Regions from separate parts of the Homo sapiens genome. Here all the other regions are linked to region 1. Evidence: fine-mapped expression QTL. A gene starts in region 1. Each other region holds a variant in brackets. All regions are shown on one strand. Distances are between the middles of the regions. Region 1 holds the start of FXYD5 (FXYD domain containing ion transport regulator 5). Region 2 overlaps HPN-AS1 (HPN antisense RNA 1). Region 3 has its middle 33 kb from the start of FXYD5. Region 4 has its middle 34 kb from the start of FAM187B.

Evidence for each region. PIP is the estimated chance that this variant, and not a neighbour inherited with it, causes the effect.
Region 2: its variant is the best candidate, but not a certain one, in a credible set for the expression of FXYD5 in nasal epithelium (TOPMed, PIP 0.89).
Region 3: its variant is the best candidate, but not a certain one, in a credible set for the expression of FXYD5 in whole blood (TOPMed, PIP 0.57).
Region 4: its variant is the best candidate, but not a certain one, in a credible set for the expression of FXYD5 in whole blood (INTERVAL, PIP 0.71).

The regions. Positions count from the first base shown.
Region 1 is chr19:35,152,242-35,157,336 of GRCh38, forward strand. FXYD5 (FXYD domain containing ion transport regulator 5) reads left to right here and starts at 2,494. Exons shown (of 9, transcript NM_014164.6): 1 at 2,494-2,568; 2 at 3,310-3,370. The coding sequence starts at 3,310. FXYD7 (FXYD domain containing ion transport regulator 7) reads left to right here. Exons shown (of 6, transcript NM_022006.2): 6 at 1,653-2,061. The coding sequence ends at 1,675. RefSeq lists enhancers at 1-512, 1,462-2,326, 3,265-3,434.
Region 2 is chr19:35,072,859-35,077,953 of GRCh38, forward strand. The region is part of intron 3 of HPN-AS1 (HPN antisense RNA 1); the gene reads right to left. It also overlaps the pseudogene LOC100421064. Among named protein-coding and RNA genes, the nearest start is that of HPN-AS1, 31 kb to the right of the region's middle. The variant T/C (reference allele first, on the strand shown) is at 1,964.
Region 3 is chr19:35,185,672-35,190,766 of GRCh38, forward strand. No RefSeq gene overlaps it. Among named protein-coding and RNA genes, the nearest start is that of FXYD5, 33 kb to the left of the region's middle. The variant T/A (reference allele first, on the strand shown) is at 2,565.
Region 4 is chr19:35,192,214-35,196,738 of GRCh38, forward strand. No RefSeq gene overlaps it. Among named protein-coding and RNA genes, the nearest start is that of FAM187B, 34 kb to the right of the region's middle. The variant G/T (reference allele first, on the strand shown) is at 2,421.

The DNA of each region.
Region 1 (5,095 bases):
ATGTCCCAGAGTCCACAGAGATTCCCAGAAACAAATGCTCAAGCCTATAAAAGCCAGGACAAGCTGATTTGCCAGGAGAGGAAGACACAGGCCTGTGAAGAGAAGGGCCCCATGTGGGAGGAGCTCTGTCAATCAGGAGGGAGAGAGAGGGAGCACTGAGGAAGACGGGGAGAGGCTTTCCAGACTTGATCGTTCAGCCAGGCAGATCCAGGATGAAATAGCCGAGGAAGCGGGACAGAGGGAGGGAGGGAAGGTTTCTGAATAGTTGCATCAAAATAACAAAAAGAGAGATGAATAGAATGCAGATTTTAGAATTCACATTGGAAAAGAACATATGGGATGCAGGGAATGTGAGGATGGAGAAGAAAGCTGGGAAGAACAGGAGGGGAGAGAGTGGAGAGGACGGAGGTGTTGGGGAGAATGTGGGAAGGAGGAGCCCAGGAAGGAAGGGGAGGAGGATGGGAGGAGGAGGGCGTGGAGGGTGGAGGAGGGAGAATGGGTGTAAGCATGGAAAGTGTAAAGGGAGAGCGAGAGGGATGCAGGGCAAGCATGTCAACGAAAGACTGATCTCTTTGAGGCTGTTAATTTTAATTATGTAAAAATAACTTGACCTGTTTTTAGTGGAAATGCAGCCTTTCTGGAGACTTGTAAAAGAACAGAAATGGGAATTTCTGTGTCTCTTATAAAGTTCTTATAACTAAAAAAAAAAAAAAAAAAAAAAAAAATGCGGGAGGGGGACACGGGTTATTCAATGGTTGAGAAGTATTTGGTGTGGAATTTGTTTCACGTTCCTTTTTTTTTTTTTTTTTTTTTTTTTTTTTGAGACAGAGTCTTGCTGTGTCCTCTGTTGCCCAGGCTGGAGTGCAGTGGCACGATCTCAGCTTATTACAACACTGCAACCTCTGCGTCCTGGGTTCAAGCGATTCTCCTGCCTCAGCCTCCCAAATAGCTGGGACTACAGGCACACACCACCACACCCGGCTAATTTTTATATCTTTAGCAGAGATGGTGGTTCACCATTTTGGCCAGGCTGGTCTCAAACTCCTGACCTCAAACGATCCGCCATCCTCGGCCTCCCAAAGTGCTTGGATTACAGGCGTGAGCCACAGCGCTTGGCCTGTTTCATGTTTATTTAATGAGTTTTAAAACATGAACAAGGCACTTATGGATGCGTGGGGCAGCATGGGGGTTGGCCTTGTCACCTGGGGCACAGCTGAAGACTTTGCACAGGTTTCTGGTCTATCCTAGGTGAATGATGGTCTGCAGCGGGTGGGGAATGGGGGACTTCCCGTTGTATCCAAATGTTCAGGACAGGGAGTGTAGGAAAGGAGTGAGGGTGTAGGAGGAGATTGCAAATGGGAAGGGAGATGGGGACTCCCTTTCTGGCAGGCGGATAGCCCCAAAAGCCCAGGTTGGGTCTGGGGTCGCCAGCCCCGTAGCAGGTGTTTCTCTCCATGACAGCAGCCAGGAGGTGTCCCCAAGGGAACAAGACATTAGAGTGTGGGAGGCAAGACAGCTCCTCAGTGTTAGCTCTGGGGTGACAGTCCCTGGGGTCTGGCTTCCATGGTGCCGGGGAATGGAGAGCCAACGAGCTGTGGGGAGGGAGGCAGTTTCCACCTTTCTAGTGGCTCACGCACCCCCTCTCTCCCCAGCCCCTGGTGGCGGCGGCGTGTAACACCTTCCCGAGGAAACTCCGCTGCCGACCCTGCCTGAGCGCGGGAGCCTGAGGACCGGGTGGAGGCGGTGGGGACCCAGCCGCGCGCCGGGAGCGCTCCCCGGAATGAGCCGCCCCACCCACCCCAAGGCTGGAGCCGCTGCACCCTGCTGTCCCTCTCCAGGCCTTGGCAATGACGATCCCCCAAAGAGCCCGTCTGCACCCCAGACCCAGGGCCTCAGGCCTCCAGCTCCTGGGATCCGGGAGTCCATCCCGGCCCAGCACCCCCAGCATCCCCGTGTATGGCCCCCCTGCACCTCCTTGTCTCATCCCCGAAGATCCGTCCCCCTGGCCCCTCAGTGTCCATGTCTTGAGCTTAATAAATGTGCATTTGGTTTTTTCCTCTGTTCTGTCTGTGTGTTCTCATCTGTGGGGCACGGTGTGGGTAGGGGTGCAGAACTGAACCTGGGGTAGCTCTCCCCTGCGTGCCCGGAGTCGCCCCCTCTTCATTCTCCTCCCCCAGTGCCCCGAGATGCCCCCCTTCAATCCCTTCTCCTTCCTCAACACCTCCGGATTTGTCCTTTCCCTTCCTCCAGCGACCCCAGAATAGAGCCCTCCCGTTTCTCCCCCTGCTCTCTCAGAGGCGTCCACTCACCCTAGACCTGCCTGCCCCATCCCCGTTCCCACCCTCTCCCACCACTATGCCCTCACCCCTGCCCCCCGTCGCCCTCAGCGATTCCCCCTCCTGCTCCCACCCCGGGCTCTGAAGCCAGGAAACCCAAGAGGAAATGACTGAGCCCGTCTGGGTCCCCGCCCGCTCGCGCTCCCCTGGCCACACCCTCCGCCTGGACGCAGCAGCCACCGCCGCGTCCCTCTCTCCACGAGGCTGCCGGCTTAGGACCCCCAGCTCCGACGTAAGTCCCTCTCGTGCGCCACCTCCATCCGCTGCCCCTCTGCCCACGGGCCGGGCTCAGGTGGGTAGGGGTTTGACCCCTTCCGCTCCTCTCCGCCCCCCATCCACGCCCACATCTCTCTGCCTCCTCTCCTGGGCTACAGTGGGCCGCTCTGCCTCGCTCCCGCCCGCCTGCCTCAGTCTCCCCAGCTCTCTGCCACCCCCCTCGGACCAGTGCCTCTTAGGTCTCTCCAGCGCGCCATCCCTGCAAGGCGGCCCCTGACACCAACTCACTTTTTCCTCTGAGCGCGGGAGGCGTTACTCACTCTTCCTCCTTCCCCTCCTCGCCGACTCCCGGGCTCTGGGCCCCTGGGGGAGGGAAGAGGCCTCCTATCTACTCCTCTGCCCCAGTCCCCTCCTTGCGTCAGTCCCAGTGAGGGATAAGCGCCTGGCGGAAGGCGCAGGGAGGTGTTTCTCTGCTTCAGGAGTGCCCGCCGGCCCTTGCAGCTGCTGGAAGACCCATTTATCTCATGCTTCTTGTTTTCTTTGGGGACCTGCAGGGGAAGGAAGCAGGGTGACGGTTTGGTATCCCCACCTAAGACCCTCCCCTTTCCCCTGAGGCCAGCCGTCAGCCCCTGGCAGGGGGTCTTGGAAGCCAGAGGTTTTTGCTCAGGGCAGGGAAAGGGCTGCAGGATCCCCGGGGGCTGCCGGAGGTCGGTCTCACTGACATCATGGCTGACCCCAGCATCGCCTGGTCCCACAGATGTCGCCCTCTGGTCGCCTGTGTCTTCTCACCATCGTTGGCCTGATTCTCCCCACCAGAGGTAAGACCCATCTCTGGCCTCCACCCTGCCCCAGAGCCCCCAGCCAGGCCAGCCCCACGTGTGCTGCGGGGTGGGTGGTTGGCCCGTGTGAACGTTGTCCTGCCCTGTCACCCTCCCGCTGAGCCGGCACCAGGAAGTGGGGATCCCTATGGCGGGGCGACGTTACACCCTCTTTGGACACCTCAGACCCGGGTGGCTGCTTCCAGTGAGTCTGGCCAGGGCCTGTCCTGCTGAGCATCCTCCAATTTCACCTCCAAGAAGAACTCACTGAGTTTCATTTGGCGGGGAGATTGGTGTCGGTTTTCTACTCAGCAGCCAGGAAACCTAGGCTCCCAGAGTCCCCAGGCATTACACAGTTAGGCAAAGCTGTTGAGCTGGGGTTAGTCCAAAGAGTTGGCAACATCTCAGCCTTGCCTGGAAAGTGTCTCCTGAAAGATGGGAACCACAGGGGGGTATTGATCGTTCTTTCTGTGTGGCAGGTGTGGTGTGTGTTAGGTCAGTTAGGCTTTGCCTCTGACAGTCAGTCACACCTGTTGTCTTGCCCATTTTACTGATGAGGAAACTGAGGCTCAGCGAAGGGAAGTGCCCTGTGTCAGAGGAGAATGGGTGGAGGAGCTGAGAAAACAACTGTCCTGCCTGCCCCCAGAACCCAGGGTGCATGCCCCACTGAAGGCGCCCTCATTTCTCCTTCATAAAATGATTTTCATATACTCGTTCAGTCATTTGACAAATATTTATTGAGCACCTACTATGTGCTAGATATTCTGTGCACTGGGGAAACAGCACTGAATAAAACAAGAGGTCACACTCTAGTGGAGAGAGACAAGTTAGTAAATTATATCGTGTGCTAGGAGGTGATACGTGCTTGCAGAAAAGTAGAGGTAATGAGGATTGTTTAAACTGGGTGGTCAGGGAGGGCCTCACTGAGGAGGTGACATTTGGACCAACAAACACTTGGAGGAAATGAGGGAATGAGCTTTGCAGGTGTCTGGGGGCTGAGTGTTGTCTGGTGTGTTTTAAGAATAGCAGGCAGGTGGGGTGGCTGGGTTGGGATGAGAAGGGGCAGAGTGGGATGACGAGAGGACAGAGAAGTGATGGGACCAGATGGAGGAGGACTTACGGGCCACGTGAGGGCTTTGCTTTTATGTGGAGTGAAGTGCAGCCAGGGCAGGGCTCTGAACCAGGCGGGCCCCGACCTGACTCAGGTGGTCCCAGGCTCCCTCTGGCTGCAGGTTGGAACAGACTGTGGGGGCGGAGACAGGAGCAGGGAGCCCAAGAAGGAGGCTGCTGGGATGTCCAGGCTGGAGGGTACAGAGGCAGGACCAGGATGGGGGCAGTGGAGTTATCCAGCACTGACCACATGGTAAGCCGTGTGGGAGACCCTTTCCCTGCTCTGTGTCATTTCACCCTATCTACAGCCCTGTGAAGTAGATTCAGTTATTATCCCTGCTTTGCAGATGAAGCAACTGAGGCTCAGAGAAAGGACTTCACTTGTTCCAGGTCACACAGCAAGAAAGTTGTTGGGGGCAGGATTTGAAACCAGGGCCCAGGCTCACCCTAGCACCTGGGCTCACTAGACTAAACTGACTTTCCCATCCCACAGGGATGGGCGGGGAGGGGGACTAGAAGAAGGGTTCCCAGGCATTGGCATAGCTGAAAACACTTTCAGAATTATGGATTGATGCAGCCAAAGCTGAGTGATTCCACCAGCAGACAGGACCCCTA
Region 2 (5,095 bases), 79 kb before region 1:
GCTTAGAAGGTATATAAGCTCTGGAAAACTTTGTAATTTTGAGTTGGTCTGGGGACAATTTCCAGGCTTTCACCCTATAACCAGTTACAGAAATAAAAACTCCCTTTTCGCTGGGTGCGGTGGCTCATGCCTGTAATCCCAGCACTTTGGGAGGCCGAGGTAGGCGGATCACCTGAGGTCAGGAATTCGAGACAAGCCTGACCAACATGGAGAAACCCCGTCTCTACTAATAATACAAAAATTAGCCAGGCATGGTGGTGGGTGTTGGTAATCCCAACTACTTGGGAGGCTGAGGCAGGAGAATTGCTTGAACCCGGGAGGCAGAGGTTGCCGTGAGCCGAGACAGTGCCATTGCACTCCAGCCTGGGCGATAGGGCGAGACTCCGTCTCAAAAAACAAAAACAAAAACAAAAACAAAAACAAAAAAAACCTCCCTGTTCTCCCAGTTTATCTGCATCTCATCACTGGGCCATGAGAAATAGCAGCCTAATCCTCAGTTTGGTCCAGGAACACAGGTGACCCTCTGTCCCATGTGGTTTGACCAGGTAAAGGGCTGTCTGGGGTTTGAGGGTCTGGAGCACCCCTTTGGGACACTGCTTTGAAGATGGAGTCCCCAGTGCCTAACTCTGAGCCTCCTCCACCAGGGTGGTCCGTGAATCTCACAGGTGCACAGTAACGAGCCCCCTTGCCTGTATGCTCCTCCTCCCCGTCTCCCCGTTCACGTCTCCAGGCGAATCTCCCCTTCTGGGTCCAGTAACACTCCTAAATGCCTGACCTTGACTATCCACCATGGCAGCCCCAGCCATGCCCTGCAGATGCCCACCCCTGGGCCCCCGGGGCTGGCCAGCAGCCCACGAGTCTCCCCAGCCACACATCTTGGCCCTGCTTGATGCACATGCACTCCGTTCCTGGATGCTGTGTGCTCATCTCTAACCTGCTCCAAGAGAACCAGCAGGGCCCCATGGGAAGAGGCTCCCTGCATGTTCAGCTGTCTGTCAGCAGCGGCCCTTCACCAAGCAGTGGCTCAACTTTCCCACTGTGGATCGCTTGACTTGTGCCCAGCCCTGCTAATGGGTGGGGGGTTCCTCCAGGGTCTGGCAACCCGGCCCCCTGGGAAAGCCCTGGAAGATTTCCATCCCCTCTTTCCTCCCTTGCCCTGCCCACCAACCCCAGACCTGGCCCAGCCTCAGGCAGACCGGATGGGAACCAGGATCCCTGGGAGACCCCCAGGCCCCCTGGACCCTCGAACAATGGAAGGTGAGCTCCAGCTGCCCCGTCCCCACCCTGGCCCCACCTCTGCCCTGGTATAAGCCCGCCTGGCCCGCAGCACCTGCAGCCACCATGGGGATACTGTGGCTTCTGCTGGTGGGTGAGTAGGAGTGGGGACTCTGGAAGGGGGTCGACTGTGCCACGTGGGCCCCAGCCCTTAGCTGACATCCTTCCCCTCAGTCCTACAGAACCAAGTGACTTGGAGCAAGGAGATCAGAGGTGAGAATGGATGTGCTCCCTAACCTGGAGAGAGGACAGGGCCATGTGGACAGGCAGGGAGGGCTCCAGGGGTCTGAGGAGCCATGGCCCCACCCTGGAGTCCCTCAGGGGACCTGGAGCTTTCTCTTGGGGACTGAGGGGACACAGCCCTGCCCTGGGGCTCTGAGGGGAGCCTCAGTGGTCTCGTGTCCCCAGCCTCGCTCCTGTACCCCTATGGGCTGGAGTGTGGGGATCAGGCCCTCCCTGCAGAGGATGATGACTTCTCTGAGGAGCTGCGGCTGCTGGAGCCCTTCATGCTCTTTGAAGCCACACACGGGACGGCCTATGTGAGTGCCCTGGCCCTGACCGTGCGGTCCCTGGGCTCTCTCTCTTCTCCCCACCCCACTCTTGACTCGGAGCCTGTCTATATCTATAGCTCCTGGCTCCTTCTGGCTTCGTCCTCTGTCTTCCTGGGGCGGGCCCTGTCCCTCTTCTG[T/C]CCCCTGCCCTGCCAACACCCCCCTGCGGGTCTTGCCCTTCCTCACTTCCCCCAGTTCTGCACCAATGGGCTGGTGTCCTTCGGGGAGCCTGTGGCTCTCTTCACACTGGAGGCATTTCCCCAGGAGATGGGCCAGGCCTTCGCAGTCCCGTTCTGGGCCAATGGGTCCACACTGAGCAGGGGCCAGATGTGGTACCGGCAGAGCCGCCAGCCAGAGCTGCCGCAGCAGGTGGCCTGAGACCTGGCCTCAGCCTTCCCCCATGCCCCGCCCACCCCTTGCGCCCTGCTGGTGGCCATGTGGGACCAAATTCCATTTTACGGGGCACTTGGTCCCCAGGTGAGGAAGCGGGTGGCAGAGAAGGGCCCAGGCTGAGGCTGTTTGGCCCAACCCCTTGGGAAGAAGGGCTTGGATTCCTGGGTAAGGAGGAGACACCACGGAGGAGAGACGGAGATGGGGGAACGAGGGAGAGATAGAGGGGGCGGGAAGAGAGAGACAGAGAGACGGAAGCATGGAGATGCAGCGAGGTAGAGAAAATGGGTGAGAAAGAGGGAAGACACGAACAGGGAGAGAAATGGCGAGAGAGAGGAGGCAAGACAGCAAGCGAGAGGAGTGAGATGATCAGATGGAGAGACAGAGAATAGGAAAAGGAGAGAGACGGAGAGAGAGAGGGGATGAGAGCAGAGCAGAAAAATCGAGACTGGGGGATGTGAAAGGAAGGCTGGCACAGGTGCCAGCAGAGGCAGCTGTGGACATGGTGTGGACAGGGGCCTGGGAGGTGGCGTGGATGGGGGTCTGGGATGTGGCATGGGTAGGGGCCCGGGATGTGGTGTGGATGGGGGCCCAGGAGGTGGCACAGCTGGAAGCAGCCAGCTTAGTGGTGCAGATGGAGCTCGGTTGAGGACTGGGCAGTGAGGAGGGTCCTGGGTGCCCCTGGACCAGCCCACGACACCCTGGCTCCTGGCGCTTGCCCTGCAGGTGAACACCTTCCAGGAGGTGCTGGCCCTGGGCAGCGGCCCCTCCTGGGTGCTGTTTCACCACAAGGACATCCAGTGGACCATGGGGGTGGCCAGCGGTGGGAGCCCCCACCACGGCCTGGGGGGCATTGCGGCCCAGGTGAGTGGGGAACCCACAGGGGCCTCCCTGGGTCCTTGGGGAGGGTGAGGACGCAGGTGGGCTGACCCTGTTCCAAATGACACCCCCAGGCAGGCTTCAACAGCGGCCGACAGAGGGACTACTTCACCCTTCCTGGCTCCCGGACCTCAGGCATCCTGAATGTGGCAGACACCAGCAATGTGGGCATCCCCAGGCACTAGGCCTTCTGCATCAACAGCTTTGCAGTCCCCAACGGCTGCACCTACAATGGTGAAGGGTGGAGAACCTGCCCCAGACCTGCCTGCTCCCAGGGCCCAGCCACAGAGCCCAGGAGCCCAGGCCCCACACTCTCCTCCTCCAAGACCCAGGAGTCCAGTCAGCCCTCAGTCCATTCCATCCTTAGATCCAGGAATCAGAGGCCGGGCGGGGTGGCTCATGCCTGTAATCCCAGCACTTTGGGAAGCCGAGGCAGGCGGATTACCTGAGGTTGAGGGTTCGAGGCTTGACCAACATGGAGAAACCCCGTCTCTGTTAAAAATACAAAATTGGCCGGGCATGGTGGCACATGCCTATAATCTTAGCTACTTGGGAGACTGAGGCAGGAGAATTGCTTGAACCCAGGAGGCGGAGGTTGCAGTGAGCCAAGATCGCGCCATTGCACTCTAGCCTGGGCAACAAGAGCGAAACTCTGTCTCAAATTAAAAAAAAAAAAAAAGATCCAGGAGTCAGAACCCCCAGTCCCCACCTTCCTCAGGACCTGAGGTTCAAGCCTCAGCCCCAGACACCCCCACCGCAGCCCACTCTCTCCACAGCCCAGTTCCTGCCCCTAGGTGCCTCTTTGTGGAACAGCAGTGCCTGCAGCCACCACACTGTGGGCAGGAAGGCCGGGTGTGGTGCTGGCCAGAGGGCTGCCAGGTGGGGCAGCAGTGTATGCCTGCACACCCCTTCCCACACTGCTGGGCCCCTCGTGGCCCCTCCTGCCACCTGGGTCCCCAGGGCCACCCGCACACACTCTCCAGATGGCAGCTGTGGCTCCAGCCCTGCCACTTCGTCCTGGCCCTGCTTCCTGGCATCTGCGTGGAGGTGGAGTTGAGGAGGGGAGGCCCGGTGGCAGAGGCCCTGGTGCGGCTGGTCATCCATGGCTGGGATGTGGTAGTGAGATCGCATGGCCCAATAGAACACATCCTGGTGAGTGGGGCTGGGAGCCGGGCTGGAGGATAGAACCCGGACAGCCGTGGAGTCGCAGACACACTAAGTGCCCACAGCCCCAGAGACTGCCACAGAGACTGGCGGGCAGAGTCAAATGTTAGATGGACAGGCAGGCAGACAGACAGACAAAATGAATAACAGGCAGAGAGACGGACAAGAAGACAGACCAGCTGGCCAATGGACAGGAAGACAGGAGGGTTGGACAGGTGGACAGGTTGATGGAAAGACAGACAGAGTGACGTTGGGATGACCAGAGCAGGTGGCAAGACAGACGGCAGAAGGGGGCTAGATGGACAGAAGGACACATGGCGAGCAGATGGCGAAGCACTTGGTGGACTCGCTGAGGCCGACGATGGTCGCAGGCAGACAGAGCCTCCCGGGCTCTCATCCTAGCCATGGACCTCACATTGCCCACCGATGCAGCCCTCCGGGGCCTCAGCGCCACCTGTCCCCTTGACCCCACCTTTCTCTGTTATACAACCCAGTTTCTGCCGCCCACCCTCTGGTTTCCTGACTGGTTGACCTCACTGGCCGCCCCATCTGCTGAGCCTACTGAGCCTACGGTGCTTCCCCACTTCTTACCTTCTGGGACATCAGGCTCCCTCTCAAATCCCTGCTTGTCTACACTCATACCTCCTGCGCTCCTTCCTCCAATACCCCACAGGTGAACCACACCTCTCCACTTGCACTCACCCCTGCATGTAGGCAGCAGAGCACACCTGGGCTGGTGTCGTACCTGTGACTGTGAACTTGAAAGGACCTTCCTTCCACCTCCCTGGCACCCTCACTCACCTCCTCTCCCTGGCCACCTGTTCACACCTACTCCTCTC
Region 3 (5,095 bases), 33 kb after region 1:
GCTAATTAATTACGTCGAACTGTCTCTTTTTTAATTTTCTTTTCTTTTTTGAGACAGAGTCTCGCTCTTGTCACCTAGGCTTGAGTGCAATGGAACAATCTCGGCTCATTGCAACCTCCACCTCCCAGGTTCAAGAGATTCTCCTGCCTCAGCCTCCTGAGTAGCTGGGATTATAGGCATCCATCACCACACCCAGCTAATTTTCATATTTTTAGTGAAGACAGGGTTTCATCATGTTGGCCAGGCTGGTCTCAAACTGCTGACCTCAGGTGTTCCACCCATCGCAGCCTCCCAAAATGTTGGGATTACAGGTGTGAGCCACTGCGCCCAGCCACATTGAACTGTTCCTGTCATGGAAAGGGCAACTCTTTTTTCTTATTTTAATTTTTTAATTTTTGTAATAGAATTCGCTTACCATACAATTCACATGCCATACAGTTCACACATTTAAAGCATACAAGCCGATCTGATTATTTCACATTGCATGCCTGTATCAAAACATCTCATGTTCTCCATAAATAAATACACCTATGATGTACCCACAGCAATTAAAAATTTTTAAAAATCATGTACAAGTCAATGGTTTTTAGTATATCCATAGATATGTACAGCCATCATCACGATCAATTTAAAAACATTTTTTTTTTTTGAGAGAGAGTCTTGCTCTGTCACCCAGGCTGGAGTGCAGTGGCATGATCACGGCTCACTGCAAACTTGGCCTCCCGGGTTTACGCCTTTCTCCTGCCTCAGCCTCCCGAGTAGCTGGGACTACAGGTGCCCGCCACCACGCCCAGCTAATTTTTTGTATTTTTAGTAGAGCCGGGATTTCACCATGTTAGCCAGGATTGTCTCGATCTCCTGACCTCGTGATCCACCTGCCTCGGCCTCCCAAAGCGCTGGGATTACAGGTGTGAGCCACCGTGCCCAGACCAATTTTAAAATATTTTTATCACCCCCACAAAAGAAACCCAATGCTCCATAGCTATTTTCCTCCTGTTCCCAAATGTCTCAGCCCTAAGCAACCACTAGTCTACTCTCTGTCTCTATATATTTTCCTATTTTGGACATTTCATATAAATGTATTCATATAATATGTGGTGTCTTGTGATTGGCTTCTTTCACTGAATGTAATGTCTTCAAGGTTCATCCGCATCATAGCATGTATCAGTACTATGTTCCTTTCTATGGCTGAATAATATTTCATTGTGTGGATTTACCACATATTGGGGTTTTTTTTGTTTTTTTTTTTACAGACCCCGCCCCCCCAAATATTGTTTATGCCTCCATCAGTTTGTAGATATTTGGTTTTGTTTTCACCTTTTGGCTATTATGAATAATATGAAAATAAACTTATGTATTTGTTATTATGTGGACATAAGTTTTCATTTCTCTTAGGAATAAAATTGCTGGGTCAAATGGTGACTGCATTTTTAACAGTTTGAGGAACTACTGGACTGTTTTCCATAGTGGCTGCAGTGATGAGGTGTGGTGGCTCACGCCTGTGATCCCAGCATTTTGGGAGGCCGAGGGGGGCAGATCATCTAAGGTCAGGAGTACGAGACCAGCCTGGCCAACATGGCGAAACCCCGTCTCTACTAAAAATACAAAAATTAGCCTGGCGTGCTGGCAGGCACCTCTAATCCCAACTACTCGGGAACCTGAGGCAAGATAATCCCCTTGAACCTGGGAGGCAGAGGTTGCAGTGAACCGAGATCACACTGCTGCATTCCAGCCTGGGCAACAGAGGGAGACTCTGTCTCAAAAGAAAAAAAAAGTTTTGTTGAACTAACTCATGAAGCCATCTGGTTTAAGACTTTTCTGTGTCCATTAAAATGATCATGTGGTTTTGTAATTTATTCTGTTGATATGGTGTATTACACTAATTTTCAGATGTGAAGCCACTGTTACATTCCTGGAATAAGTCCCACTTGGTCGTGGTCTATAACACTTTTTATATGTCTCTGGATTTAGTTTGCTAGTATTGTGTTAAGGATATTTGCATTTATATTTATAAGAGATATTTGTCTGTAGTTTTCTTGTGTCTTTCTCTGGTTTTTGTACTGGGGTAATACTGGTCCCAAATAATCCACTGGAAAGCGTTGCCTCCTTTTTTTAATTTTTGCAAGAGTTTGAGAAGAATTGGTATTAGCTCTTCTTTAAATTTTTAGAAAAATCTGCCAGTGAAGCTATCTGGTTCTTGGTGTGTGTGTGTGTGTGTGTGTGTGTGTGTGTGTGTATGTGTGTGTGTGTCTTTGGTCATTAATTCAATCTCTTTACTTATTAGAGGACTATTCAAATTGTCTGATTTCTCTTGAATCAGTTTCAGTAGTATATGTCTTCTAATAATTTATTTCAACTGGGCGCAGTGGCTCACGCCAGTCCCAACACTTTGAAAGGCCAAGGCAGGTGGATCACTTGAGGTCAGGAGTTCGAGACCAGCCTGGCCAACATGGTGAAACCCCATTTCTGCTAAAAATACAAAAATTAGCCAGGCATGGTGGTGGGTACCTGTAATCCCAGCTACTTTGGAGGCTGAGCAGGATAATCGCTTGAATCCGGGAGGC[T/A]GAGGTTGCAGTGAGCCAAAATCACACCACTGCACTCCATCCTGGGCGACAGAGCAAGACTTCATCTCAAAAAAAAAAAAAAAAAAAAAGAATTTACGGCCAGCACGATGGCTCATGCCTGTAATCCCAGCACTTTGGGAGGCTGAGGAGGGTGGATCACTAGGTCAGGAGTTCAAGACCAGCCTGGCCTCAAGACCAGCCTGGCCAACATAGTGAAACCCTGTCTCTACTAAAAATACAAAAAAATTAGCCAAGAGTGGTGGCGGGCGCCTGTAGTCCCAGCTATTTGGGAGGCTGAGGCAGGAGAATCGCTTGAACCCAGGAGGTGGAGATTGCAGATCGCCACCATGCCTGGCTAATTTTTGTATTTTTAGTAGAGACAGGGTTTCGCCATGTTGGCCAGGCTGGTCTCGAACTCCTGACCTCAGGTGATCCTCTCACCTGAACCTCCCAAAGTTCTATGATTACAGGCATGAGCCACTGTGCCCAGCCGCATGATTTTGATTTTAATTTTAAAATCAAAATTTTATACAGATTTGTTTTGTTGCCTAGTGCAGGTTCTATCCTACAGAATATTCTCCGTGCAGTCGAGAAGATTGTGTATTCTGCTTTTGTTGGGAGAAGTGTGCTATAGTTGTCTGTTATATCTGGTTGATTAATACTGTTCAGATCTTCCATTTTCTTGTTGATTTTATGCCTAGTTGTTCTATCCATTATTGGAAGTGAGGTACTGAAGTCTCCAACTATTATTGTGGATTTGTTCATTTCTCTATTCATTTTTATTAGTTTTTGCTTTATGTATTTTGGTGCTTTATTATTAGATGTATATGTGTTTATATTGTTATATATTCTGATGGACTGACCGCCTTATCATTATACAATGCTTCTCTTTATCTGTAATAACTTTTTTGTTACAAAGCTTATTTTTTCTGACGTTAGTATTGCCACTCCAGCTTTCTTGTAGTCACTGCATGATATATTGATATATTGTCTTTCATCATTTTACTTTACATTTTTGAATCTTACATGTTTTTCCTATAGATAGCTTTTGGCTGTATCTTGGTTTTTAAAAAAAATCTAGTCTGAAATATTTGACTTTTAATTGAATTGTTCATTTCATCAACATTTAATGTTATTATTTATACAATTGGATTTACATCTGCCATATTAGCTTGTGTTTCCTACAAAATTTCTTTATTAGTGCCAGGGGTTTTTTGTTTTATTTATTGATTGATTTTATATTTATTGAGATTTTCTACATAAACAATCATTTCAACTGGGGATGGGAACAGTTTTATTTTTTCCTTCCCAATCTATATGCCTCTTACTTCCATTTCTTGACTTATTACACTGGCTAAGACTTTCAATATGATGTTGAATAGAAATGGTGAACATGCTTGTCTTGTTCCCAATCTTAAGAAAGAAAGCATTCATTTTTCACTGTTTGGTATGATATTAGCTGTAGGCTTTTTGATGCTCTTTATCAGGTTGATGAAGTTCTCTTCTATTCCTAGTTTGCTAGGATTATTTTTTGCAAAACAAAACAAAACATGTATGAGTGTTTTATTTTGTCAATACTTTGTCTGCACCTATTGATATAATCATGATTTTTCTTCTTTAGATGGTTAATATGGTAATAGTGATTGATTTTAAAAAATTGGACCATTGTTGCATTCTTAGTATAAATCCCATTTGGTCATAGTTTATTGTATTTATTCATTTATTATTATTATTATTTTGAGACAGAGTTTCACTCTTGTTGCCCAGGCTGGAGTGCAATGGCAGGATCTCGGCTCACCCCAACCTCTGCCTCCTGGGTTCAAGTGATTCTCCTGCCTCATCCTCCTAAGTAGCTGGGATTACAGGCTGTGCACCACCATGCCTGGCTAATTTTGTATTTTTAGTAGAGATGAGTTTTCTCCATGTTGGTCAGTCTGGTCTTGAACTCCTGATCTCAGGTGATCCGCCCACCTCAGACTCCCAAAGTGCTGGGATTACAGGTGTGAGCCACCGCGCCCGGCCGGTCATAGTTTACTACTCATTTTACATATTGCCGAGTTCAATTTGCTAACATTTTATTGAGTATTTTTGCATCTATATTCATGAGGAGTATTTTAGTTGTGTTTATTATTATTTTTTGTACTGTCTATCTGGTTTGTCATCAGGGTAATGCTGGCTTCATAACATGAGTTGGAGAGTATTTCTCCTTTTGTATTTTCTGGAAGAAATTATGAAGAATTAGTGCTATTTCTTCTTTAAATTACTTATTTAAAACCATTGAAACCACCTGGGCCAGGAGATTTTTTAAAATGGCATTAACTATACATGCAATTTATTTAATAGTTACTAGACTATTCATATTATCTATTTCAACAGTGGTGAATGTAGTAGCTGGTAGTTTTTGAGAAATTGGTCCATTTCATCTAAATTTTGATATTTATGTGTATAGAGTTATTACTGATATTCCTTTATAAGCTTTTTAATAATTATAGGGTCTGTGGTGATAGCTGTCCTCTTTCTACCCTAATATT
Region 4 (4,525 bases), 40 kb after region 1:
TTTAATCTACAAATTTCCTTAAATTTAAAGAGTTTCTTGTTGAGAGCATATAGTTAAGTGAATTTTTTAATCTATTCTCATAATCTCTTTTAATTCATATATTTAGACCATTTACATTTAATGTAATAATTGATATGTTTGGGTTGGGTATACCATTTTATCATGTGTTTTCTATTTGTTTCATTTATTTTTTATTTTATTTTTTTTCTGAGATGGAGTCTTGCTCTGTTTTCCAGGCTGGAGTGCAGTGGCATGATCTCAGCTCACTGCAACCTCCGCCTCCTGGGTTTAAGCAATTCTCCTGCCTCAGCCTCCTGAGTAGCTGGGATTACAGACACCCACCACCACACCCTGCTAATTTTTGTATTTTTAGTAGAGATGAGGTTTCACCATGTTAGCCAGGCTGGTCTCGAACTCCTGACCTCATGATCTGCCTGCCTCAGCCCCCCAAAGTGCTAGGATTACAGGTATGAACCACTGTGCCCAGCCTATTTTGTTTTTGTTCCTCTCTTTTTCCTTTCCTGACATTTTTTTTGCTTATTTGAACATAGTTTAGTCTTCCATTTTAAGTTATCAATTATGATTTTTACTATAACTATTTGTATAAGTTTTAGTGGTAACTCTAGGGATTACAAAATGCACACTGAACTTTTTACACTGTATTTAGAAACAATATTTTATCACTCAAAACTTTAGCACTAGTAGGTCTCTTAATTCTCCCCCTTATGTTATACTTGTCATGTATTACATACACATTCATGAAAATTCCATGGCCAATGTTATAGTTTTTTTTTTTTCCAACTGTAAAACAGATTTTAAGGAACTCAAGAGGAGAATAGCCTATTATATTTACCCAGGTAGTTATTACTTCTGTTGTTCCTCCTTTATTCCTGATGTTCCAAGTTTCCTTCCGGTATCATTTCCCTTCTGTCTGAAGCAATTCCTTTAGCAATGTTTTTTACAGCATTTCCGCTGGGTATGAATTTTCTTAGTTTTACTTAATCTAAGAATGTCTTTATTTCGCCTTTATTCCTGAAAGTTATTTTCACTGGAGATAGAATTCCAGATTGACACTTATTTTCTTTCAGCACTTTAAGAATATTAGGCCATTTCCTTCTGGCTTCCATGGTTTCTGCTGAGAAATATGCCATCATTTGAATTATTCACATGTATTGGCTTGTTGGGTTTTTTTTCTTTTCTTTTTTTTTTTTTTTTTCTTCTTTCAAGATATTTTCTTCATATTTAATTTTTAGCAGTTTAATTATGATTTGTCTGTGCATGGATTTCTGTGGGTTTATCCTATTTGGGGTTCACTTAGCTCCTTGAATCTGCAGGTTTAAGTCTGTATATAGGGAAAACAAACTGTTTTTCCTCTTCTATACTCACCCTCAGCACTCAACACTTCTGATGCCAGATGTGTGGGGTTCCTTCCCCCCCCAAACAAGCAATTCTCCTATGGCAGTTGGGAGTCCTACAATTCAATTCAGTTCTAACACTATTTACCTAGAGACAGTGTCAGATCCCAAAAGTTAAGGGCTCAGTCCCGTAAGACTGCATCCCACTTCAGATGTCAATCATAAGTGATAGATTCCCAGGTTATCCACAACTTCTGTCTGACTTGGCTACAAATTACAGGTTCACAAGATCCTTTACTTGGGTTCAGTCATTTGCTAGAATGGCTCACAGAACCCACTCTGTATGCTGAAACTGAGAATTAACTTGATTAAGCCCACTGAACTTAAACTGCCTTACTTACTTTTAATTCCTTACTTCTAGTTAATCTTAATAACTATATAGCTAAAAGTCATGTAACTAAGCAATCTACTATCTTCCTTATAGATAATATCTCTGATGTATAGGTCACCATGGTAACAGTTGCTTAAAGTTATTTTTCATGAATTTGGGGTCAGCTCTTGTCCAGTTCAAGCCGCTTGAGACCACTTCACCTGGGCCTGCGTGAATGTCCAAGAGGTGAGCTTCTGACACCAGAGGGCCATAAAGATCTTCCTACAGATCATACTAACGCCACCATTTTCTAAACATGCTTCCTATGAAGAGCCATGAGGCTTGACTATGTGTGTGCAGATTGCCAATTACCTCACTTTTTCTTATCCCAATTCCCTTTCTCCACACCTCAGACCACTCTGCTTCTTTATCTCATAAATATCCCTAAATCCCATCTTTGGGGAGGCAGATTTGAGACCCATTCACCCACCTCCTCACTTGGCTGTCTCATGAACAAACCCTTTATTTTTTGCAAAACCTTTCGCCACAGTGATTGGCTTATTGAGTGCAGGCAAAATGAACCTTGCTCAGTATCAGTATTTACCCACTTGTTACAAAGAATCCAAATCAGGAACAGCCGGATGGAAGATGCATAGGGCAAGATATGAGGGAAGGGGTGCAGAGCTTCATGTCCT[G/T]TCCAGCTGTACCTGCCTCCTAGCATTTCCACTTGTTCAGCAACCCAGAAGCTCTCAGAACCCTATCTGTTAGGGTTTTGGTGGAAAGCTTCATTACATAGGCATGATTGATTGCATCGTTGGCCTTTGGTGATGAACTCTACCTTCACTCCCCGTCCCGCTCCCCAGAGATGGAGGTGGGGTGTGGCTAGAAGTTCTAGCCCACTCATCACGTGTTTGGTTCTCTGGGCAAGGAGACCTCATTCTGAAGCTGTCCTGGATCCCCCAACCATCAGTCATCTCATTAGCATACAAAAATATTTCAGTTGTTTTAGGAGCAGTGTGTCAGGAAGTGGGGGAAGGCATAGACCAAAATTTATTTCTTGGCCGGGTGCGGTGGCTCATGCCTGTAATCCCAGCAGTTTGGGAGGCCGAGGCGGATGGATCATTTGAGGTCAGGAGTTGGAGACCAGCCTGGCCAACATGGTGAAACCCCGTCTCTACTAAAAATACAAAAATTAGCCAGGCATGGTGGCGCATGCCTGTAATCCCAGCTACTCGGGAGGCTAAGACAGTAGAATCGCTGGAACCCAGGAGGCAGAGGTTTCAGTGGCACCACTGCACTCCAGCCTGGGCGACAGAGCTAGACTCTCTCAAAAAAAAAAAAAAAAAAATTACTTCTTATTATGTCACAATGGCTTTTGCTAAACTTGAGATGTTTTCTGTCATTATTTCTTCAAAATATTTTTCAGCACCGCACTTTCCTCTGGCCTCTGGGATACAAATGTTAGACCTTTGTGGTTGTCCCACAGGTTCCTAAGGCACTGTTCAATTTTTTTTTTTAAGTCTTTTTTCTTTCTACTATACAGATTTGGTTATTTTTATTGTTGTATCTTTATGTTGACTGACTCTCTTCTCCCATCTCCATTTTGTTATTGAGCCCATTCGATGAATATTTTATTTTGGTTATAGTGTTTTTCAGTTGCACAATTTCCATTTGTTTCTTCTTCATGTGTTTTATTTCCTTGCTGATATCTTTAATATTTGTTTTAAGAGTTTTTTTATATAATTGCAAAGTTTACATCATTGCAATAGCATGAATTGATTGTCTTTTCCCATGAGAGTTAAGAATTTTGGTATCCTTTGTATGCCAAGTAATTTTGGACTGCATCCTGCACATTTTGAACATTATATTATGACACTCTGAGTCTTGTTTAAATCCTATTGAGAATATTGATGGTTTTGTTTTAGTGGCCAGTTAACCTGGGTAAATTCAGACTGCTAAGTTCCTACTTGCCTTCTATGCCCTGTAGTTCCAATGTCAGTTCAGTTTTTGAAGCATTTGCAATGCTATTCTGATCTATCTTCCAAATGTGTCATCCAGTGGTCAGTCTGGGCCCTGGGCAGAAGTCTAATCATTAGCTCAGTTTCCAGTCTGCGGCATGCTAATTAGGGCCAGATGAGTCCATGAGTTCATAAATAACTTTATGGGGTGACTTTCTCAAGCCCTTCCCTCTCTGTTATCTTCCGATACTTTCTGGTTCCCTGGGCTCCCCTTTCTGATCCTCCAGACAGAAACTGCCCAATTTCATGATTGTGCCAGGTCTAGGATCAAGAGGTTGGAGAACAGAGAGGGAGAAAAAAAAGCAATGGAGTCTGATCCTTTCCACTGAATGGAGAGAAAAGTCCTTTCCTGAATTTTTGGCTTCTGCCAGCTGCTCTGCTACTGCAATGGGATTGCTCGAAAGAAAACAGAAAAGGGGGAGAAAATAAATTCTCCCCACTCTCTCTGAACTTTAGGAGTACCCTTTCCTGCTCCTTCAGCCAGGCCTCTCCTAGGTTTCTCCCTGTCTGCACCACAGTGCTCATTTCCAAGTTTTGGACTGTATTGAGTTCAGGTCAGGGGATACAGGAGGAAAATAATATAGTAAACTCATCATTGATTTGGTGGCACTTTGAATTTTTGTGTTCCTTTCCCAATGCAACTGTTGTAACTGACTTTCCAAAATTGTCAAATAGCTGGGCCATGTATTCTGTCTGGATTTTCTAGTTGTGTTCAGTGGAAAAGAAAGTGTAGCACGTGTTTACTCCTTCTTGCCTGGGTTTACTACTTCTTTCCCAGAACT